Homo sapiens: one gene and its partner. The protein of the gene in region 1 interacts with the protein of each later gene in a pairwise test. Each region holds a gene or a part of one and is shown on either strand. Other genes may lie near its edges.

The links.
Region 2: the proteins of RAB10 (region 1) and MICALL1 interact in a two-hybrid assay, tested with the Homo sapiens proteins (one study listed by IntAct).

Annotation. Positions count from the first base shown.
Region 1 is NC_000002.12:26,037,084-26,049,389, reverse strand, and holds part of RAB10 (ras-related protein Rab-10), read right to left. Parts: intron 1-12,306. UniProt on the Homo sapiens protein: The small GTPases Rab are key regulators of intracellular membrane trafficking, from the formation of transport vesicles to their fusion with membranes.
Region 2 is NC_000022.11:37,914,590-37,926,895, forward strand, and holds part of MICALL1 (MICAL-like protein 1), read left to right. Parts: intron 1-3,117; coding exon 3,118-3,206; intron 3,207-4,446; coding exon 4,447-4,589; intron 4,590-7,382; coding exon 7,383-7,837; intron 7,838-10,070; coding exon 10,071-10,128; intron 10,129-11,071; coding exon 11,072-11,454; intron 11,455-11,591; coding exon of another isoform or gene 11,592-11,608; exon of another isoform or gene 11,609-12,306. UniProt on the Homo sapiens protein: Lipid-binding protein with higher affinity for phosphatidic acid, a lipid enriched in recycling endosome membranes. On endosome membranes, acts as a downstream effector of Rab proteins recruiting cytosolic proteins to regulate membrane tubulation.

The DNA of each region.
Region 1 (12,306 bases):
AGCGCAGTGTAAATTACGGCAAGAGTCAACCACTAAGTCCATTTTCATTCCTGTCAGGTCATACAGAATCTCTGAAATCTTGAGAACTCCTACATCATCTGATTAACTATATGAAATTAGGAGAGGGGAAAAGGCCTTCATATTAAATAAATGGTACGGGAGCAATCAGACATCCCTTCCACAAGCAAAAAAAAAAAAAAAAAGTCGACCTCCATCTAAACCCCCCACCATATACAAAAATAACTCAAAATAGGGTGTAAAATATAAAACTATAAAACTTTTAGGAAAACACAGAAGAAAATATTTGGGATCTATGATGGACAGAGTTCCTAAATACCAAAAGCATGATCCACAAAAAGAGAGGAAAGTCCAAAAGCATGATTTATAAATTGGACCGCATCAAAGTTCCAAATGTTTGCCCTGTGAAAGCCCATGTGAAGAGGATGAAAAGACAAGCTACAGACTGGAAGAAAATATCTGTAAACCACATATCCAACAAAGGACTAGAATTTTATTTTATTGTATTGAGATAGAGTCTCACTGTCGCCCAGGCTGGAGTGATCACAGCTCACTGCAGCCTCAACCTCCCTGGCCTCAGCTGATCCTCCCATCTCAGTCTCTCAGATAGCTGAAACTACAGGTGCACACCACCACATCCAGCTAATTTTTTTCTTTTTTGTAGAGATAGGGTTTCGCCATGTTGCCCAAGCTAGTCTCAAACAACTCACCCACCTAGGCCTCCCAAAGTGCTGGGATTACAGGTGTGAGCCACTGCACCTGGTCAAGACTAGAATTTTAAATGTACAAAGAATTCTCTAAACTCAACAGTTAAAAAACAATCCAATTAGAAAATTGGCAACCACATGAACAGACATTTTTCCAAAGATGGCAAATAAGCACATAAAAGGACTTTTCAACACCTTTGGCAATCAGGAAAATGCAAATTAAAAACCACAATGAGATTATCACTACACACTTATCAGAATGACTACAGTACAAAATAGTATGATAACATTATCAAATGCTGGTGAGGATGCAGAGAAAGTGCACTCATACACTGCTGAGGATGGGGGTGTAAAATGGTATAGCCATTCTGGAAACAGTCTGGCAGTTTCTTATAAAACGAAACATGCAATTACTATGTGACCCAACAATTGCAGTTTTGGGTGTTTATTCCAAAGAAACAAAAATTTATGATCACACAACCTGTACACAAAATATTCCTAGCAGCTTTATTCATATTAGCTAAAAACTAGAATCAGCCCAGATGTCGGTCAATGGGTAAAGATTAAACAAACTGGTACATACCATGAAGTATACTACTCAACAATTTAAAAAAAAAAAAAAAAAAACTAATGGGCCCGGCACGGTGGCTCACGCCTGTAATCCCAACACTTTGGGAGGCCAAGGCCGAGGCCGGCAGATCACCTGAGGTCAGGAGTTCAAGACCAGTCTGGTCAACATGGTGAAACCTCGTCTCCACTAAAAATACAAAAAAATTAGCTGGGTGTGGTGGTGCATGCCTGTAGTCCCAGCTACTTGGGAGGCTGTGGCAGGAGAATCGTTTGAACACAGGAGGCAGGGGTTGCAGTGAGCCAAGATTGTGCGACTGCACTCCAGCCTGGGCAACAAAGTGAGACTCTGTCTCAAAAAAAAAAAAAAAAAACAGGCCAGGCATGGTGGCTCACACCTGTAATCCCAACACTTTGGGAGGCCGAGGCAGGCAAGGCAGATCACCTGAGGTCAGGCGTTCAAGACCAGCCCGGCCAATGTAGTCAAACCCCATCTCTACTAAAAATACAAAAATTAGCTGGGCATGGTGGTGGGTGCCTGTAATCCCAGCTACTCAGGAGGCTGAGGCGAGGAGAATCACTTGAACCTGGGAGGCAGAGGTTGCAGTGAGCCGAGATTGTGCCACTGCACTCCAGCCTAGGCGACAGAACAAGACTCTGTCTCAATAAAAAAACAAACAAACAAACAAACAAAACAAATGATACACACAACTTGGATTAATCTCCAGGGAATTATGCTGAGTTGGGGGGTGGGGGGGAGCCAATCCCAAAAGGTTACATTCTATATGATTCCATTTATACAACATTTGTAAAATGACAAAATTTTAGAAATGGAGGACAGTTTCATAGTTACCAAGGTTTGGAGTGTAGAAATATCGGGAGGCTATAATTACAAAAGAACATGAAGGGTCCTTGTTCCTTGGAACTGTTGTATATTGACTATGGTGGTGGATACATGAACCTATGAATGACAAAATTGTACCAAATTTCATATACACACAAATGAATAAAAATAAAACTGGGGAATTTTAATAAGGCTGGTGTACTACACCAGATGTCAATATTCTGGTTGTGATGTTATAAAAATTTCCCAAAACTGCTACCATTGGAAGAAACTGGGCAAAGTATACAAGAGATCCCTTTGTATTACCTTTTACAACTGCATGAGAAATTACAATTATCTTAATAAAAATTTCAACTTAAAAAAAGTCTGTACAGAAGCATTGCTAATTATACGAAAGAAACAAATCAACACTGTCCTTTGTTCTAATTTTGATATGATGTACTTTTTGGGTCTCCAGAATAATGGTTTTTCCATTTTCTAATGTTTTAAACCTTGGAAGCTCTGTTTCTGGGTCGTATGTGAAACACAGCATTCTAGGCCAGGCGTGGTGGCTCCCACCTATAAATCCCAGCACTCTGGGAGGCTGAGGCAGGAGTACTGATTGAGCCTAGGAGTTCGAAACCAGCCTGGGTAACATGGCGAGACCCCATCTCTATTAATTTTTTTTAATCAACAGTAAATAATAAATAAAAAAAAGAAATGTAGCATTCCATTAATAGTTGCTGTTTTCCTCAAAAATATTATTTTTCAGCTCTGGAAAGAAGAATAAACATCAAGCAATCACTTATGCTTGCAACCCAAAATACACTGCACTGTCTTCAAATAAAAACGTTTTTCTCATTTCAGATTTCCCTTAAGACTGAGTTTTCTTCACTAAAATTTCATTTTAATCAACTTTTCAAATTCCTTTTCTTTTTTTTTTTTCTTTGAGACGGAGTTTCACTCTTGTTGCCTAGGCTGGAGTGCAATGACGTGATCTCGGCTCACCACAACCTCTGCCTCCTAGATTCAAGCAATTCTCCTGCCTCAGCCTCCCGAGTAGCTGGGACTACAGGCATGCGCCACCATGCCCAGCTAATTTTTGTATTTTTAGTAGAAACAGGGTTTCTCCATGTTGGTCAGGCTGGTCTCGAACTCCCGACCTCAGGTGATCCACCGGCCTTGGCCTCCCAAAGTGCTGGGATTACAGGCGTGAGCCACCGCACCGGGCCTCAAATTCCTTTTCTTACAGTCCAAATTTAATGAACTAATTTCATAAACCCTCAATTATTCATCTATTTGAAGGACCCACCTCTATGACCTTTACAAGACTTTTAGTCTTCTGGGTTCAGATGTCCTGTTAACCTCAACATCCTTTGTAATCCTTTAAACTCTTTTTTTATATATAAAATAAAGTTTTAAAAAGCTGGCCTTGGTGGCTTTAGAGGCTGAGGCAGGAAGACTGCTTGAGCCCAGGAATTTGATCCAGTCTGGGCAACACAGCAAGACCCTGTCTCTACAAAAATCAAATCAAATAAAAATGAAACTCCTCCTTTATGACTTAACCATCTCAATAAACAGTTTTCCCAGGCAAATCTCTTCAGCTAATCATACAATTTATATTTTGTGCTAAATAATGGTCTCTTACTTGTAAATCAACACTCAACAAGCTCCTACTCCTTCGTTCTTCACAACTGCTACCACAGCTCTGCCTGGGCAACCTTCTACTGTTAGACGGCCGGGCGCGGTGGCTCACGCCTGTAATCCCAGCACTTTGGGAGGCAGAGGCGGGCGGATCATGAGGTCAGGAGATCGAGACCATCCTGGCTAACACAGTGAAACCCCGCCTCTACTAAAAATACAAAAAATTAGCTGGGCGTGGTGGCGGGCGCCTGTAGTCCCAGCTACTCAGGAGGCTGAGGCAGGAGAATGGCGTGAACCCGGGAGGCGGAGCTTGCAGTGAGCCGAGATTGTGCCACTGCACTCCAGCCTGGGCGACAGAACGAGACTCTGTCTCAAAAAAAAAAAAAAAAAAAGTTGAAAGAGATTGCCAGTATTTCTCTTATTAGCCTCTCCCTTTTGCAAACAAAACGAGAATACCAGTATTTCCTTTGCCATGCTTGTGCGTCATTATACACCACAATTCTTGAAAAGAAACATCATCGGCTCTTCTCTATTATGCGCTAAGATGGCAAAGGACAAGTAACCCGAACAAAATCCTTGATATTTTATTCTAAGACTTGTTACTTACCTATTCGTGCCCCTCCAAAAAAAAAAAACAAAAACAAAACCACAGCAACTCTACTTTTCAAATTGAAATTGATGAGCAGGAAAACTATCACTGATTTTTTTTAACATAACAATGAAATTCTCAGAATGAGCAATGTGGTTATGAATAAGATTGGCTGTGGATTCTAATAAAAACTCCTGGCGGGGCGCAATGGCTTACACCTGTAATCCCAGCACTTTGGGAGGCCGAGGCAGGTGGATCACCTGAGGTCAGGAGTTTGAGACCAGCCTGGTCAACAGGGCGAAACCCTGTCTCTGCTAAAAATACAAAAATTAGCCAGCAGTGGTGGCTCATGCCTGTAATCCCAGCTACTCGGGAGGTTGAGGCAGGAGAATCATCTGAACCCGGGAGGTGGAGGTTGCAGTGTGCCAAGATGACGCAACTGCACTCCAGCCTCGGGAACAAAAGTGAAACTCTATCTCAAAAAAAAAAAAAAACTAATTAGCCATGTGGCCTTTTGGCCTTCTGGAAGTTACTTCACCTCACCAGTCTCAGTTTTCCCACTTTGAAAATTCATTTAAGGGTTCATTCCTGCACTAACATTCTGTGATTCTAACATTCCAAGAAGGTCTATGCAAATACAGACAACAAAAAGACAAATCTGCCTTCAACAACTGAAAGTACAGACCAGTGATATTAAAGCATGGGAAAGTACCATAAAGGATCCTCTTGATTCACAACCACTGGTTAACAGTAGCTAACACCTGGAACAGGAGGGGCCGTCTGTGATCAAATGCTCTTTTAGAGAACTGGGTCGAGTGTTAGTTTTTTGGGTTTTGTTGAGCGGTGGGGAAAATATATCTAAAACATTTACCATTTAAACCATTTTCTAAAACATAACATTAAATTTGCCATCTTAACCATTTTTAATGTGTACAGTTCAGTAGGTGTTAAGTGTATCACACCATTGTGCAACAGATCTCCAGAGCCTTTTCATTCTGCAAAACTGTAATGCGTTGTTTTATACTCATTAAACACCTTCCTATTTCCCTCTTCCCCAGCCCCTGGTAATCACCATTATTTCTGTTTCTATGAATTTGACTTTAGATAGCCTCATATTCATATAAATGAAATCACATAGTATTTGTCTTTTCATGCATTTCAAACATTTTTAAGTGTACAATTCATTGGCATTAAATTAATTCACACTGTTATACAACCATCAACACTATTCCTCTCTGGAACTTTTTCATCCTTCCAAACTAAAACTCTGTGATCATTAAGCAATAACTCCCCATTACTCTGTCCCCCAGGCCCCAGTAACCACTATTCCACTAATTTTGTCTACTATAGGTACCTCACACATTATTTGTCCTTTTGTGTCCAACTCATTTTACTTAGTAAACTATTTTCAAGGCGTATCCATGTGGTAGCATGTTAGAATTTCCCTCCCTTTTAAGGCTGAATAATATTCCATTCTATGTGTATACCACATTTTGTTTATCCATTTATCCACTGATGAACATGTGAGTTGTTTCCACCTTTCAGCTATCGTGCATAATGCTACTATGAATGCTGGTGTACAAATAGCTGTTTGAGTCTTTTTTGTTGTTGTTTGTTTTGAGACAGGGTCTTGCTCTGTCATCCAGGCTGGAGTACAGTGGCATGATCATCAGCTCACTGCAACCTCCGCTTCCCGGGTTCAAGTGATCCTCTCACCTCAGCCTCCCAAGCAGCTGGTACTACAGGCATGCGCCAACATGTACAGCTAATTTTGGGGGGTTTCTTGGTAGAGACAGGATCTCACCATGTTGCCCAGGCTGGTCTTGAACTCCTGAGCCCAAGTAATCTGGCCTCCTAAAGTGCTGGGATTTACGGGCATAAGCCACCTTGCCTGGCCCTGTTTGAATCTTTGATTTAAATTATCCTGGATATAACTCGAAGTGAGATCACTAGATCATATGGTAATTTCATTTTTAATTTTTTGAGAAACCACCCTATTGTTTCTCACTGTGGCTGCACCATTTCACATTCCCACCAGCAATGCACCAAGGTTCCAATTTCTCTACAACCTCATCACTTGCTTTTGTCGTTTGTTGTTGTTGTTATAACTATCCTAAATGGTCGCAAAGTAACATCTCACTGTGGTTTTGATTTGCATTTCCCTAATTATTAGTGATGCTGAACATCTTTCCATATGTTTATTGGGCATCTGCTTAGCTTCTTTGGAGAAATACCTACAGAGGTTTTTTTTTTTTAAATAGTAATTATGAAACAATTCACAAATTTGCGTGTCATCCTTGCGCAGGGACCATACTAATCTTCTCCATATCCTTCCAATTTTAGTATATATGCTACCGAGACAAGCACTCTGGATGGTCTTTTGGGGTTTTTTGTTTAAGACAGAATCTCACTCTGTCATCCAGGCTGGAGTGAGATGGTACAATCATAGCTCACTGCAGCTTCAAACTCCTGGGCTCAAGTGATCCTCCCATCTCAGCCTCCTGAGTAGCTGGGACTACAGGTGTACACCACCGCACCCAGCTAATTTTTTATTTAAAAGCTTTTTTTTGTAGAGATGGGGTCTCGCTAAGTTGCCCAGGCTGGTCTCGAACTCCTGAGCTCAAGCTATCCTCCTGCCTCAGCCTCCCAAAGTGTTGGAAATACAGGTGTGAGCCACAGCACCCAGCCTAATCAATCATTTCTTAAATGCAGGTTAGTGGAACCAACCTACTCTTCCAAAACTTAGCAAAATCATCCTGACAACAAAATGTATGTATTATACCTCTCTTAGGGACAAGAGCCTTTACCAACTTGATTTCTTACATGGAGCCGAGAGACTCCAATTCCCAGTGAAAAATATTCCCTGTTAAAAAATGAGTAAGCCTGTGGTGGAGAAAGGATTAATGACACCAAAAGGTAGCACATCCAGTATAGAAGCAGCCCACTAAAAGCTTGTGCTTTGGGGACAAATCCATGTAATTCCCACATCACTAATAAGTAACGCATTCCTGAGCTCATACTACCAAGATGGTTATGGTCAAATCAACCACTGAAATCTTCTCATCCAAAAGCAGTAACTCTCTTAAGCCTATTTTTCAAACAACCTTTCAATTTCTCTTTTTCTTTTCTTTTTTTTTGAGACAGAGTTTTGCTCCTGTTGCCCAGGTTGGATTACAATGGCACGATCTCGGCTCACCGCAACCTCCGCCTCCCTGGTTCAAGCGGTTCTCCTGCCTCAGCCTCTAGAGTAGCTGAGATTACAGGCATGCGCCACCACGCCCAGCTAATTTTGTATTTTTGGTAGAGACAGGGTTTCACCATGTTGGCCAGGCTGGTCTCGAACTCTGACCTTAGGTGATCTGCCCGCCTCGGTCTCCCAAAGTGCTGGGATTACAGGCGTGAGCCACCAAACCCAGCCCCAACCTTTCAATTTCTAAGAGCAGTCTTGCCCTATTAAGCCAAACAGCTAACATTCTTTTTTTTTTTTTTTTTTTTTTTGAGTCAGCGTCTCACTCTTGTCACCCAGGCTTGAGTGCAGTGGCACGAGCTCAACTCACTGCAACCTCCGCCTCCCGGGTTTAAGCAATTCTCCTGCCTCAGAGCCTCCCAAGCAGCTGGGGCAACAGGCACACACCACCATGCCTAGCTAATTTTTGTATTTTTAGTAGAGACGGGGTTTCACCATGTTGGCCAGGCTGGTCTCAAACTCCTGACCTCTGGTGATCCACCTGCATTGGCCTCCCAAAGTGCTGGGATTACAGGCATGAGCCACTGCGCCCGGCCACAGCTAATATTGGTAAGTCTGATCCCAATCTACTTCATATAATGATCAGAAAGTAGGTAAAAAGGAAAAATTTTACATAAACTACCCCCAATTCATATTAAGGGGATCCTGATTGTACCACCTGTCTGCCTACCTGCCTGCCTTCATTCATTATTTATGGTGCACCCATTAAATGCAGGTACCCTTCCAGGTGTTTAGCACACATGAGAAAAAAAAAAAAGACAAAGATTTCTGCCTTTGTGCAACTTATATTCTGGTGCCCTTGGATTCGTTTTGAGATTGGTTGAGTGTACCATACCAGTAATTTGTTTTTTGCAGCAGTCTCCAATAAATCTGACCATAAATACAATACATAATTTCTAATACGGATGTATGAGAATTGAAAATATATAGAAAAATTCAAATACAGTAGTCTTTGTGAACACCATCCTATAAATCTATAAAAATTATTTCTTCAAAAAACCATAGCCAATAAGAAACTTAAATGACTGCACCTGAAATAATGAGGGCCTGCCTTATTTTGGCAGTCAGGTCCTTCTGAACACCTGCAAGATAACTACTTCTATACAAACCTCTGGATGTTTTCTGTTTTTGTTTTATCATACACGGTCTCGCTCTGTCACCCAGGCTGGAGTGCAGTGGTGTGATCCGAGCTCACTGCACCTTTGAACTCCTGGACTCAAGTGATCCTCCCACCTCAGCCTCCCCTGTAGCTAGAACTACAGGAACATGCCACCATGTCCTGCTAATTTTTTGTTTTTGCAGAGATGGGGTCTATGTTGCCCAGACTGGTCTCAAACTCCTGACTTCAAGTGAACTTCCCAACTCAGCCTCCCAAAGTGCTGGGATTACAGGTTTGAGCCACCACGCCCAGTCCTCAGGATGTTATAGATTCTCTATAAATCATTTATAGAGAATGCTCTAGATTTTAAAAACAACACAGCCAGACGCGATGGTGCTCGCCTGTAGTCCCAGCTACGTGAGAGGCCGAGGAAGGAGGATTGCTTAAGCCCAGGAGTTCGAGGCTACAGTGAGCTATGATTGCACCACTGCACTCCAAGTTGGGTGACAGAGTGAGATTTAATCTTTTAAACAACAACAAGAAACCCTCATCACTTAATAACATTTAACACATTCCTGAAAGTAGTCTACATTCAAAGTATTTCTAGTCATCTGCACGTTGACCAACTGGCTACTTTACATTGTTTAGACACATACCATCCAGTATGGTAGCTACAAGCCACATGTAGCTATTAATCACTTGAAATATGCCTCTTTAAAATTTATTTTTTCATTACATAATATACATCCATGTAGAAATACGCCTAATCTGAGATGAGTTGTAAGCATAGCTTACAAACCAGAGAAAAAGAATGTGAAATATCTCAACAATTTTAATTTTTTTTTCATACAGACAGGGTCTCACTATGTTGCCCAGGCTGGTCTTGAACTCTTGGGCCCAAGCAATCCTCCCACCTAGGCCTGCCAAAGTGCTGGGATTACAGGTGTGAGCCACTGAGCCTGCCCTCAACAATTTTTAAATCTTGATCACACAATAAAGTAACATTCTAGATATGAGTTAAAATATATTATTAAAATTTACTTTTTAGGCCAAGTGTGGTGGCTCACGTCTGTAATCCCAGAACTTTGGGAGGCCGAGGTGGGTGGATCACCTGAGGTCAGGAGTTCTTGACCAGCCTGGCCAACATGGCAAAACCGCATCTCTACTAAAAATACAAAAAAATTAGCTGGGCGTGGTAGTGGGTACCTGTAATCCCAGCTACTAGGGAGGCTGAGGCAGGGAGAATTGCTTGAATCTGGGAAGTGGAGGTTGCAGTGAGCCCAGATCGCGCCACTACACTCCAGCCTGGGCAACACAGTGATACTCCATCTCAAAAAGAAAAAAAATTTTTTTACTTTTTAAAATGTGACTATTTGGCCAGGTACAGTGGCTCATGCCTGTAATCCCAGGATTTTGGGAGGCCAAGGTGGGCGGATCACCTGACGTCAGGAGTTCAAGACCAGCCTGGCCAACATGGTAAAACCCTGTCTCTACTAAAAAATTCAAAAATTAGTTGGGCATGGTGGCACACGCCTATAATCCCAGGTACCTGGGAGGCTGAGGCAGTAGAATTGCTTGAACCTAGGAGGCGGAGGTTGCAGTGAGCCAAGACTGCACCACTGCACTCCAGTCTAGGCAACAGAACAAGACTCTATATCTTAAAAAAAAAAAAAAAAAAAAGTGGCTATTAAAAGTAATATATGTGGCTCACATTATTTCTTTTGAACGGCACTGGTTAAACGCAATGGTAGATTTTTTTTTTTTTTTTTTTGAGACAGAGTCTCGCTCTGTTGCCCAGGCTGAAGTGCAGTAGTGCGACCTCGGCTCACTGCAAGCTCCGCCACCTTCTGGGTTCATGCCATTCCCCTGCCTCAGCCTCCCGAGCAGCTGGGACTACAAGCGCCCACCACCACGGACAGCTAATTTTTTGTATTTTTAGTAGAGACGAAGTTTCACCATGTTTGGCAGGATGGTCTCGATCTCCTGACCTCGTGATCCACCCACCTCAGCCTCCCAAAGCGCTGGGATTATAGGCGTGAGCCATCGCGCCCCGCCCAATGGTATTTTAAACCTGTGCACAGAGCTAATACATGTATGTGTTCAAGCTGTACTCAGAATCATTTATTTTCTCAACTTACACTATTCAACATCTTATATGTGAAAACATTTTTACCTGAAAGTATGAAAATGTCAGAGTCTAGGCTGGGCGCAGTGGCTCATGCCTGTAATCCCAGCAGTTTGGGAGGCTGAGGCAGGTGGATCACCTGAGGTCAGGAGTTCAAGAGCAGCCTGACCAACATGATGAAACACCACCTCTACTAAAAATACTAAATTGGCCAGGCGTGGTGGTGCGCACCTGTAATCCCAGCTACTCAGGAGGCTGAGGCAGGAGAATCGCTTGAACCTGGGAGGCAGAGGTTGCAGTGAACAGAGATTGTGCCACTACACTCCAGCCTGAGCAACAAAAGCGAAAATCCATCTCAAAAAAAAAAAAAACAAACAAACAAAGGAGGGCAGTGTGGTGGCTTCCGCCTGTAATCCCAGCACTTTGAGACGCTGAGGCGGGCAGATCACCTGAGGTCAGAAGTTCGAGACCAGCCTGGCCAACATGGTGAAACCCCGTCTCTATTAAAAATACAAAATTAGCCAGGTGTGGTGGCATATGCCTGTAATCCCAGCTACTTGGGAGGCTGAGGCAGAAGAATCACCTAAGCCTGGGAGGCGGAGGTTGCAGTGAGCCGAGATCACACCATTGCACTCCAGCCTGGGCAAAAAGAACGAAACTCCGTCTCAAAAAAAAAAAGAAATTGTTTAGTGGAGCACCAACAAATACTTGGGTACCACGGTGTGCAGGATGTTCAATCCATAAAATAACATGTTCTGCCACACCTCCACAGCAGAAGAGTCACATATTCTATATATAGCTAATATGCACTGTGCTCCTACAAAGTGCCTGGTCCTGGCACCATGTGAAGTGCTTTACTCTCACTAACCCCTAAAATCCTCACAACTACCCTATGTGGTAGATATTATGATTGACACTTTTTTTTTTTTTTGAGACAGAGTTTCACTCTTGTTGCCCAGGCTGGAGTGCAATGGCACGATCTCGGCTCACCACAACCTCTGTCTCCCGGGTTCAAGCGATTCTCCTGCCTCAGCCTCCTGAGTAACTGGGATTACAAGCATGCGCCACCACGCCCAGATAATTTTTGTATTTTTAGTAGAGACAGGGTTTCTCCATGTTGATCAGGCTGGTCTCGAACTTCCGACCTCAGGTGATCCGCCTGCCTCGGCCTCCCAAAGAGCTGGGATTACAGGAGTGAGCCACCGTGCCCAGCCTTAACACTCTTAAAGAGCCTGAAGCCGACAGAGGTTAAGTAATCTGCCAAAGTTGCACAGCTAGTAACCTGTGGAAACAAGATTCCAACCCAGCAGACTTGATCCAAAATCATCACACATCTTCCCAAGTAAAAGGGCTACAAAAAGATTATACCATTATCTTACAGGATTGAGTTTTAGTTGGGGGCATGCACCCTTTACAAAAAGATTGGAGTAGACAGAGTTAATGTTTTGCTTCCTACTCCACACTGTTCCTAAGGATAGGTTAAAGTT
Region 2 (12,306 bases), on another chromosome or scaffold:
ATATTATGTGTATATATGCGTGCGCGCACACACACACACACGCACATATATGTGTATTTTTTTTGAGACAGGGTTTTACTCTGTTGTGTTGCCTAGGCTGGAGTGCAGTGGCATGATCACAGCTCAATGCGTCCTCAACCTTCCTGGGCTGCGGTGATCCTCCTATCTCAGCCTACTGAGAAGCTGGGACTACTGGTGCATGCAACCACACCCAGCTAACTTTTATATTTTTTGTAGAGGTGGAGTATCACCATGTTACCCAGGTTGGTCTTGAACTCCTAAGCTCAAGGGATCTACCCTTCTCGGCCTCCCAAAGTGCTGGGATTACAGGCATGAGCCACTATGCCCAGCCATAAATAAATAACTTTAGGAAAAAAAGAAAAAATAGCCGGGTGAAGTGGCTCATGCCTGTAATCCCAGCACTTTGGGAGGCCGAGGCAGGTGGATTGCTGTTGAGACCAGACTGGGCAACATAGCAAGAACCTGTCTCTACCAAAATAAAAATAAAAAAATTAACCAGGCATAGTGGTGGCACACCTGTAGTCCTAGCTACATGGGAGGTTGAGATGGGAGGTTTGCTTGAGGCCAGGAGTTTGAGGCTGCGGTGAGCTATGATCACGCCAGTGCACTGCAGCCTGGGCAACAGAGCGAGACCCCATCCCTAAACAGAAAAAATAAACAAGAAAATTTAGAACATGGCAAAAGCAGAAAAATTAAAATAATGTCTTATACCCCTTCCCCCTGATGTAACACTAGGGATTAAAATAATTGAACAAATAACATTATGTATATTTTAATAGAAAACAAAATGAAAGTATTTCCAGACCCCAGAGGCTCTGGTGAGAGGCAGTCTAAGGTTGGGGTTAAGAGCATGGACTCAAAATTTTCACTCTGCCATTTCCTCTTTGGGTGACCATGGGTCAGTTATTTAACCACTCTGCCTCAGTTTCCCTTTTGCAGTGAGGATAGGAATAACACCCATCTCACAGGGTTGACTTGAGGAGTAAATGAGGAAATGTATAAACCAGTGTTTGGCACCTATTTAGATTAGTATTCTTTTTTTTTTTTTTTTTTGAGACAGAGTCTCGCTGTGTCATCCAGGCTGGAGCTCAGTGGCACAACCTTGGCAGACTGCAGCCTCTGCCTCCCATGTTCAAGCGATTCTCATGCCTCAGTCTCCCAAGTAGCTGGGATTACAGGTGCGCACCACCACGCCTGGCTTAATTTTTGTATTTTTAGTAGAGATAGGGTTTCACTATGATGGCCGGTCTGGTCTGGGATTTCTGACCTCAAGTGATCCACCCACCTTGGCCTCCCAAAGTGCTGGGATTACAGGTGTGAGCCACTGCGCCCAGCCAAGATTAGTATTCTTACTACTTCTTATTTCACTGATTAGCGTTTAGCTGGATTCCTTAGAATCGCAATTCAGCCTTAGCCTGCGGCCTTCCTTGTGGCCAAACCTGAATCTCTCTCTACTGAGCTCATCTCTGGGACTCTGCGGGGTGGGTGGGGTGTGGGCAGCTGTTGGTGGTACGCAGCTCATTCGTTGGCCCTCTCTGGGCAGCCTGGTGGGCAGGGGCAGCCCTGGTGGGCACAGCTTACCGTGCTGAGTGTGGGCATGGGCACTCCCTCGCCCTGCAGGGATTCTCATTGATAAAGGTACAGTTTGTGGCAGACAGTCCTTTGTTATGCTGCCTGTATTTTCAGCCTCGCAATGTATTTTCATACCTTCTCTAATAAATCTGCCTTTTGTAATAAAAAAGAAAAGGTACAGTTTGTGCCTTTCATACAACTTGGCCCCTAAATGCAAACCATTTTTATCCCATCTGCTGCTTAAGCAAAGGAAACAGTGATGTGTTCCAACTCTGGAGGCAAAGCTGGCTGTTCGACTCCCCCAGATGGTCCTGTACTGTACTTTCTGGGCGAGTGGAGGCATTTCAAGAGTGACTTTGACTAGCCTTGACTTTTTACCAGACTGGGTAAGTTTGGAGCCTGCCCCTGGCTGAGATGTCGTGGTGCTGTGCTGAGTGTTCAGCTGTGCCACCACGCTCAGTGGGTGCCAGTGACCCCGGGCACAACAGACAGACCCCCACCCTGGAGGAGCTGCAGCCTGCTCAGGGAGCCAGGGCAGGAGTGAAGGAAGCCGAGTGGCTGTGGGAAATCAGAAAGGGGTTGGGGAGTAATGTCAGGATGAAGTCCAGCTTCTTCATGTGGCTTCTAAGGGCCTCTCCCCAGTCAGCTGGAGCCACTCCTGGCACCAACCATAGTGTTATTGAATTTATTTCTTTTTTTGAGACAGAGTCTTGCTCGGTTGCCCAGGCTGGAGTGCAGTGGCGCGATCTCAACTCACTGTAACCTCCACCTCCCAGGTTCGAGCGATTCTCCTGCCTTAGCCTTCCGAGTGGCTGAGTGGCTGTGATTATAGGCGCGCACCACCATGTCCAGCTGATTTTTGTATTTTTAGTAGAGATGGTGTTTCACTATGTTGGCCAGGCTGGTCTTGAACTCCTGACCTCAAATGATCCACCCACCTCAGCCTCCCAAAGTGCTGGGATTATAGACGTGAGCCACTGTGCCCGGCCTGAGGAGCTGAGTCTTAGAGGAACCCAGGGTGGGTGGGTTTGTTCTGGTGAGGGGGTGTGCAGGCCGGGTTCTGGCCCCCAATACCCACTTGGGGATAGGCAGGACAGCTCCTTGTCAACCCCAAGGAGGCAGCGCCTTTCCTGAGCTGTCAGGGCAGCACCATATGGTTCCTTTCTTTTCCTTTCCTTCACCTCCTCTACCCTGGTGGCAGGGAAGCTGCTGGTGTAGCCACACGCGGGTGCTGTGTTCTGTGATCGTACTGTTGCGCCATTGTTCGGATTGGCTCTGTGCAGTAGGAGTCACTCTCCCCATTTGATGGAGGTTCAGTGAGGTTCATGGCTTGCCCTCAGCACTTGGCTTAAAACTGGAAGCGTCCCCGGGCCCGTGTGAAGCGGGAGCCAGCTCCTGTCCCACTGCATTAGGTGGTCTGCCTTTAGGTGATGGCTACAGGTCTCAAATCTTCAGCCAGGTTGGGACCTCCTGGGACTCCAGGATCTCCACCTGCTTCAGGACCCCTTTCTCATCTCTTGGCAGCTGGTGTCTCGCCACCCAGAAAGGGCCTTGCACCCTGTTCCCCGCCGTCTGTAGCACCCACTCCAGTGGAACCAGAAGATGTGGCTCAGGTAGGCAGATACCTGGAGAGGTGGGAGGGCCAGGGGTGGAGGGGGCGAGTTATGTGGACGACTATCATTGCAGTGACTGGGTCATGTGAGGAAGTTAGCCCTGACAGTGTTCAGAGGGTGCTTGTTCTCTGTCCCTGCCCTATTGGCTTTGGGAACAGGTGTCCCTGACTGGGGCAGTGAGGCATGGGTCAGGAGGCCAGTCCCGTTCTATGGGCAGGGAGCCCTACCTCCTTCTCCAGGACTCAGGTGGGGTCAGGAGATGCCAGCTCTGGCAAGGGGAGAGAGGGCAGTCCACAATGCTGACTTCACCATCATGGGACTGTCAGGAGTTACACACGTAGTAAAGCAAAGATTCCCCTTGATTCCTGTGGAGACAGCTGTAAACTTCCCGGCTTGATTTCCTTTAATCCTCTCAACAACCCAGGGAGGTCAGCATTATGGGCCCTGGTATACAGATGAGGAAACTGAGGCTCAGTGAGGTTTAGTCATTTGTCCAAGGTTACTTAGTAAGGAAGTGGGGGCCAACTGCCAGTCACCTGTTTGAAGGGCTTAGAGGAAGTGACACCAGCCCTTCACATCTGGACGGCACCTTACAGTGTGTAAAGGGCCTTCCCCTCCTGCTCCCATCTGCTCTTTGCTGGAGGGAGCTAGCCCCAGGGTGGGTGCTCCATGAGGGTACATGGGGCTGAGGCTGGCAGGGGTTATACAGTTTCATTCTGCAGGTGGGACCCAAGCCCACACTTGAGCAGCTTGCTCAGGTTCACTGTGCTTGGATGTAGAGAAACTGGGATTTAAATCCGTGGCAGTTCTAGGAGAGAACAGAAAAGGCAGCTGAGGTCGGCCTGGGAGGACAGGAACCTGTCAGGGGGGCTCCCCCGCAAAGGGGAGGAGGAGGGGGCAGGAGCCGCCAAGGGGAAGGGGCTGCACAGCCAGGAGCTGCCTTCCTTTGGGGAGGGAAGCCTCAGAAACCGGAAGTCAGGATTTTCGTGTTTCCGCACTGGCTCAGTGACCTTGAACAAGGCTTTCCTCCGTTCTGGGCTTTGGCTTCCTCACCTGGGAGACAGTGGCAGCCTCCTGCCCTCTGCCCCTCCTGGGGCCCTGATGAAGTCCATTTCCACCACGAAGCCTGGTGCACACTTGAGTGACGGTGGCCGTTGGAGGGAGGGAGAGGGCAGTGATGTGAACAGGATGGCTGGTGACCATGTCCTGCTCCCAACCTCCCCCACCTCGTTCTCTGCAGGGCGAGGAGCTCTCCTCAGGCAGCCTGTCAGAGCAGGGCACCGGCCAGACCCCCAGCAGCACGTGCGCAGCCTGCCAGCAGCATGTGCACTTGGTGCAGCGCTACCTGGCTGACGGCAGGCTGTACCATCGCCACTGCTTCCGGTGAGTGGCCAGGGCCGCGTGTTACCCCCGAAACCAGGGAGGGGGCTACCGTGGGTTCAGCACACACAGTGCGCCAGGCACCTTGCCAGGCCCTTCACACCAGAGCCCCTGGCTTATCCCCATTTTACTGATGAGCAAACCAAGGCTTAGTGAGGGGAAAAGCAGTTGCTCAGCCACATGATTCGAGACAGAAACAGGGTTAGAGCACAGGGGTTTTCCTTCCAGCGCCTACGCTTTTTGAGGATAACTACTGGATGAGGATGAAGGAGCACTTTAAAAGCCACGTGTACTTTAAAAGCCATTGAAAATTAGCCGGGCATGGTGGTGCACACCTCTAATCCCAGCTACTCGAGAGGCTGAGGCAGGAGAATCGCTCAAACCCGGGAGGCAGAGGTTACAGGAAGCCGAGATCGTGCTACTGCATTCCAGCCTGGGTGACAGAGCGAGACTCTGTCTCAAAAAAAAAAAAAAAAAAAAGGCCATTGAAAAAATAAAATGAAATATTTTAGCTTAAAAAATTTTTTTTTGGCCGGGTATGGTGGCTCACGCCTGTAATCCCAGCACTTTGGGAGGCCGAGACAGGTGGATCACCCTGAGGTCAGGAGTTTGAGACCAGCCTGATCAACGTGGTGAAACCTCATCTCTACTAAAAATACAAAAATTAGCTGGGTGTGGTCGTGGGCACCTGTAATCCCGGCTACTCGGGAAGCTGAGGCAGGAATCACTTGAAGCCAGGAGGTGGAGGTTGCAGTGAGCTGAGATCGCACCTTTGCACTCCAGCCTGGGCGACAGAACGAGACTCTGTCTCAAAAAAAAAATCTTTTTTTCTTTTAAGATGGGTCTACTATGTTGCCCAGGCTGGTCTCAACCTCCTTGGCTCAAGTGATCTTCCTGTCTTACCCTCCCAAGTAATCGGGACTACAGGCATGTGCTACCATGTTCTGCTTGAAGTTTTAAAAAATTACAGTAACAACTTGCTTTAAGTATGTGGCTTCCAAGGGAAGCCAGATTTTAAGAGAGTGGTATAAGCAGCAAGGAAAGTAAAAAAACTTAGAAAATTCATGGAAACATTTTATATGTTTCAAAAATGAAACCAAAAGAGGAAATTGAACAGTCAAGGAAGCCGGGAGTGGCAGCACGCACTTGATCTGGTTGAGTGTGCCCCTGAGTGGGGGGCAGCTGGTGCTGGAACCCTGGAACCTGACCGCAGAATTGGGGTGTCATGGGGAAAAATCTCGAGGAGGAAACAGACTCTACCAACACAGTCACATCTGGCTACCAGGGCAGTGTTTTAGAAACTTTTTACAGGCCGGAGCTGGGTGTGGTGGTGGCTCATGCCTATAATCCCAGCACTTTCGGAGGCTGAGGCTGGAGGATCGCTTGAGGCCCAGAGTTTAAGACTAGCCTGGGCAACATAATGAGACTTCATCTCTACAAAAAAATTAAAAAAAAAAAAAATTAGGCCAGGCGCAATGGCTCATGTCTGTAATCCCAGCACTTTGGGAGGCCGAGGCGGGTGGATCACGAGGTCAGGAGATCGAAGCCATCCTGGCTAACACGGTGAAACCCCGTCTCTACTAAAAATACAAAAAAAATTAGCCGGGCATGGTGGTGGCAGGCGCCTGTAGTCCCAGCTACTCGGGAGGCTGAGGCAGGAGAATGGTGTGAACCTGGGAGGCAGAGCTTGCAGTGAGCCGAGATCACGCCACTGCACTCCGGCCTGGGCGACAGACTGAGACTCCGTCTCAAAAAAAAAAAAATTAGCCTAGTGTAGTGGCACGCACCTGTAGTCTTAGGCATTTGGGAGGCTGAGGCAGGAGGATCACTTGAGCCCAGGAGTTTGAGGCTGCAGTGAGTTATGACTGCACTACTGCACTCCAACCTGGGTGACAGTGAGACCCTGCCTCAAAAATAAAAAGAAACTTTTTATAGCAACTCCTAGTAAAAAATACACTTGACACTGTGACTAGATGTAAATATTTACCTGAAATAAAACTGTGTAAGTAGAGGCACAGCTGGAGTAAGAGTTTCACAAAGCACTATTTGGCCTTTCTTGTATGATACTGTCTTATACATTGTATCTTATTCTATTTCATTAACAAAACACAGCCGGAAGTAGTGGCTCACACCTGTAATCCCAGCACTTTGGGAGGCCTATGCAGGTGGATCACTTGAGGTTGGGAGTTTGAGACCAGCCTGGCCGACTTGGTGAAACTCCGTCTCTACTAAAAATGCCAAAAAAAAATTAGCCAGGTGTGGTGGCAGATGCCTGTAATCCCAGCCACTCGGAAGGCTGAGGCAGGAGAATCTCTTGAACCCGAGAGGCGGAGGTTGCAGTGAGCCAAGGTCGCACCATTGCACTCCAGCCTGGACAACAAGAGTGAGACTCCATCTCAAAAAAACAAAACAAAACAAAATGAAAACAAAACACAAAACAACACCTGATTGGGTAAAAACCACTGCTTTATTTTCCTGAGCCACTACTGGATGCAGCCACTCACTGGATGCCACCTCTCAGGGGGACCTTTGCTTCTTCCTCTTGCAGCATAAACTGAAGGCATTTTTCACAATTTCTGTTGCTGAGTTCGTGTGATTTGGTGATTTTATTGTTCCACTATGCTTCTGACAGTTACTGTTTTCTTTATCCTCTGGGAAGTCTAGGGTATGGAGTCGAGCTTGGCTGGCAGTTGGGAGGAGGGAAGGGAGGAGACAGCCCTGGGTGCGGCTGGAGGGGTAGCCAGTGCCTGGGCCCAGCTGCCTGGCTAAGTGAACCCCTGTCCTGTCCCCTGCCAGGTGTCGGCGGTGCTCCAGCACCCTGCTCCCTGGGGCTTATGAGAATGGGCCTGAGGAGGGCACCTTTGTGTGTGCAGAACACTGTGCCAGGCTGGGCCCGGGGACACGGTCGGGGACCAGGCCTGGGCCCTTCTCACAGCCAAAGCAGCAGCACCAGCAGCAACTCGCAGAAGATGCCAAGGATGTTCCAGGAGGCGGCCCCAGCTCCAGTGCTCCTGCAGGGGCTGAGGCCGATGGACCCAAGGCCAGCCCTGAGGCCCGGCCGCAGATCCCTACCAAGCCCCGGGTTCCTGGCAAACTACAGGAGCTGGCCAGCCCCCCTGCGGGCCGCCCCACCCCTGCCCCCAGGAAGGCCTCTGAGAGCACCACCCCAGCACCCCCCACGCCCCGGCCCCGCTCCAGTCTGCAGCAGGAGAACCTGGTGGAGCAGGCTGGCAGCAGCAGCCTGGTGAACGGTGAGCAGGGTGCAGTCAGGGCAGGGGGCACCGGGTGGCAGTGCACTGTCTATTGAAAAGTCTGTGTGTCTGGGAGTGTTGGTGGGCCCCTCTCCATCTGTGCCATTGTGTGCTGTGCTGTGTTGGGGCCTGCCTGTGTTTTTGAGGTTATTATATATATATATATATATATATATTTTTTTTTTTTTTTTTTTTTTTTTGAGATGGAGTTTTGCTCTTGTCCCCCAGGCTGGAGTGCAGTGGCTTGACCTCGGCTCACTGCAACTTCCACCTCCCGGGTTCAAGCGATTCTCCTGCCTCAGCCTCCTGAGTAGCTGGGATTACAGGCATGCGCCACCATGCCCAGCTAATTTTGTTTTGTTTTTTTTTGTTTTTTTTTTTTTTTTTTTTTAGTAGAGACGGGGTTTCTCCATGTTGGTCAAGCTGGTGTTGAACTCCCTACCTCAGGTGATCTGCCTGCCTCGGCCTCCCAAAGTGCTGGGATTACAGGCGTGAGCCACTGTGCCCAGCCTATTATTATTATTTTTGAGATGGAATCCCACTCTGTCACCCAGGTTGGAGTGCAGTGGTGCGATCTCGGCTCACTGCAACCTTTGCCTCCCGGCTTCAATCAGTTATCCTGCCTCAGCCTCTTGAGTAGCTGGGATTACAGGCTACCACAGCCTGGCTAATTTTTGTATTTTTAGTAAAGATGAGGTTTCACCATGTTGGCCAGGCTGGTCTCAAACTCCCGACCTCAGGTGATCTGCCCACCTCAGCCTCTCAAAGTGCTGGGAGTACAGGCATGAGCCACTGTGCCGGGCTCTTTTTATTTTTTTTGAGACGGAATCTCACTCTGTCATCCAGGTGGAGTGCAATGGCACAATCTCGGCTCACTGCAATCTCTGCCTTCCAGGTTCAAGCGATTCTCCTGCCTCAGCCTTCCAAGTAGCTGGGACTACAGGTGCACACCACTATGTCTGGCTAATTTTTGTATTTTTGGGTAGAGATGGGTTTTCACCATGTTGGCCAGGCTGGTCTCGAACTCCTGACTTCAGGTGATCTGCCCGCCTTGGCCTCACAAAGTGCTGGGATTAAGGCCTGAGCCACCATGCCTGGCCTGTTTCTGAGGATATTAATTCCTGCCCCAAATGCCGAGTTCCTGCAGCCTCTGCCGTGCTCTGTTCTCCATGCTGGGACGGTGCAAACAATACAGACCCAGGCCCCGCCCTTACACTGCCTCCCTCTGCATGCGCTCTTTTGCATCTGTTCTTGTGGGCTTTAGTTTCAGGGTGTGTAGTAAGTGCCACTCTGCATGTGCCCGTGTGTCCCCGAGCTCTCTGGGACTCTGCACATTGGTGTCCTTCCTGTGTGTCCTGGCCCATCCACAGGCACACTGCAGGTGACCTCCATGCCCAGCCTCTATGCTTGTCTATGTCTAGAAGGGGAGAGCTCAGGGGCTTGGGGGAGAGCAGAGGGGTCAGGTGGGCCCCGGAGCCAGTGTGAGCTGCAGTGGAGACCCCTGGCCCATTCTGTGGGTGCATTCTCCCCCAACCCCACATTGTAGAATGCTCCCAGATGACCTCCCTGGGTTTCCGTGAGCTTGTAGGATTGAGACTCCTTGTATAAGGCTGCTGGGCAGCCCTTATCATTCCATTAGGGAAGGCATTGGTGGCCACGGGGAGAGAGACTCCCAGGGTCACCCTGCGACTTGCACCAGAACATTCTATTTGTTCAGCTCTTGTGGAGGCTGGATCTGAGCTGACCGCTGGGGACACAGATTACTGTTCAGGCCTATCTGTGCCTTCAGGGTGCTCCCAGTGTTGAGGTGGAGACAGGCACAGATGCAAGGGTTTCAGTGGATTGTGGAAGTCTTGCTAAGTTGGAAGGAGGGGAGCAGGGGCTGCTGTGGGATTCACAGAGGACACTTGGGAGTCCAGGACTTCCAGGAGGAGGTGGCTCCCAGGCTGACTTGAGATGATGTTTTCTGCCCACACTGGCGGGGGGTGTCTGAGGGGATTTGGGTTTCTTCTCAAATGAAATGCAAACGGGGTCTCAGGTGGCCTGGCCTTGACCCCTGACTGTTCTCAGGCACCTGGGTGCTTATCTAATCTCCATGGGCTGGCCTGGGGAGGTGCGAGGGTGCCAGGAGGAAGGCGGGGCGCTCCTGGGGAGGCAGGTGCTGTGGCTGGCTCCCTGGGTGCCCACCTCCTGCTGCCCATGAAGGCCTGGCTCACTCTCCTTTCCCATCTAGGGAGACTGCACGAACTGCCTGTCCCCAAGCCGAGGGGGACACCGAAGCCGTCCGAGGGGTATGTCGATCCCTGAGGGGCTTTCCTGCTTTGGAGGTCCTGGTGGTGGGAATCAGGGTACTCTGGGGCCGGGTAGGGAGAGAGGCTTCCTGTGGATGGGCAGGGCGGGGCTCAGGAGGGGAAGGAGAGCTGGGCCCACACCCCTTCTCCTGAGGCTCACCCCGGGATTCCTGCGGCCAGTGCCTGGCCCCCTCCCCAGGTCCCTGCTCCTGTGGGCAGTGCCCGGTGCAGGCAGCCACCTCTGGTACCCGTTGCCTCTCCAGGCTCCTTTGCCCTGTAACATGGGAGGCCGAGGCTTGATTATAGAGTTGATTTGAGGCTTAGCAGCAGAGTATAGAAAGACCTGGAAAAGCTCAGCTGTAGTACCAGTCCCTCAGGTCCTGCAGCACGGGACCCTGCTTCACGTGGAGGACATCTACTTCAGCTGTTATTTGAGGGCCATGCTTCCCCCATGTGGTCGGTCTGTAGGGAGCCAGGTGGGCCATGGCTGTGCCAGTTGTTAACGTTTACTGAGTCCCTGGCACTGAGCAGGTGCCCCAGTGCCCCGCCCAGTGCTGCACTCCATAGCTCACTGCATCCTTACACCAACCCTGTGAGGCAAGGATTATTAAGGTCCCCATTGAGTGGAAAGGGAGACTAATACAGAGGGAGGGCAGGTGACTTTCCCAGGGTACATGGATTGTAGGTGGCAGAGCCCCTGGTCGATCCTTTCCTGGGCTGGGTTAACAGCAGCTCTGTGACTTGAAGGTTCACATTCTCTGGGCCTCAAAGGCTGTGACTGTAACATTCCATTTCAGACTGTCCCCATGGGGATGGGGGTGGGAGAAGGGAAACAGCCGTTTCTCATCCACCCCCTTTGAAGTAGAGTCAAAACTGTCTAGAGAGAGAAGGAAGCTGACCCTTGCCTCTGCTAATGGTTTCTGCTGCTTCCCCCCTCCTCCAGGACACCAGCCCCCAGGAAGGACCCCCCATGGATCACGCTGGTGCAGGCAGAACCAAAGAAGAAGCCAGCCCCACTTCCCCCAAGCAGCAGCCCGGGGCCACCAAGCCAGGACAGCAGGCAGGTGGAGAATGGAGGCACCGAGGAGGTGGCCCAGCCGAGCCCAACGGCCAGCCTGGAGTCCAAACCCTATAACCCCTTTGAGGAGGAGGAGGAGGACAAGGAGGAAGAGGCTCCAGCTGCACCCAGCCTGGCCACCAGCCCTGCCCTGGGCCACCCGGAGTCCACACCCAAGTCCCTGCACCCCTGGTACGGCATCACCCCTACCAGCAGCCCCAAGACAAAGAAGCGCCCTGCCCCGCGCGCACCCAGCGCGTCCCCACTGGGTGAGTGCCTTTCCTGGAGCTCTCCTGACAGTCGGAACTCGGGGGTGGGGCCCGGGCCTGGGGAGGGGGTGTGGTGGGGCAGAGCCTACCAGGCCAGGCACCACGTGTTTCATGGGTGACTTCTCATTTAATCCTAGAGCAAACCTGTGAGTAGGTATCGTCACCTCCACTTTGCAGGTGAGGAGACTGAGGCACAGAGAGGCTAAGTAGTTTGCCTAAAGCCTCTCAGTGCTTAAGCAGGAGAGGCAGGATTTGAACCCACGGAGTCTGGCCCGAGTCCATCTCTTCACCCTCCCTGTCGTGCTCGTTAAACGTGCTGTCTAGTGGTGTGCTCAGTGCAGCGAGGGGCTCATGGAAAGGAGGCGTTTGCTTGAATCCTGCCTAACTCTGTCACTGTCGCTGCAGTTCCTGAGCGACCTGGGCTCTCACCTGGCCATGTGTGACCAGGTGTAATGACTCTGACTGTCCCTGAGTCTGTCTGTAGTCCTCCATGTGACATGGTGGCTCAGCTCCAGGCTGCTGGGCCTCCTCCGCCCAGTGCTTCCCCCCTCACCCAGGAACGCTGGAGTTTTTGGCCCTCACCTTCTCCCAGTCTTCTGATACCCTGAGCTGGGTTTTTGGCCCTAACCTTCACCATGGCTGGGTCTGGCCGCCTCTGAGAGTTCCATGGGACCCCCTCTCACAGTGGGGCAAGAGCATGCCAGAGCTGGCAGAGGCAGGTGCTCAGGGGGTCTGAGCGGAGCCCTGGGACCCCAGCTGAGGCTGGCCTGTCTGGGTGGAAGTGGTGGGCAGCTTCAGGGGACAGCAGAGGAGCATGAGCTCTGGAGTCAGATACAGTGGATTCAGTCCCAC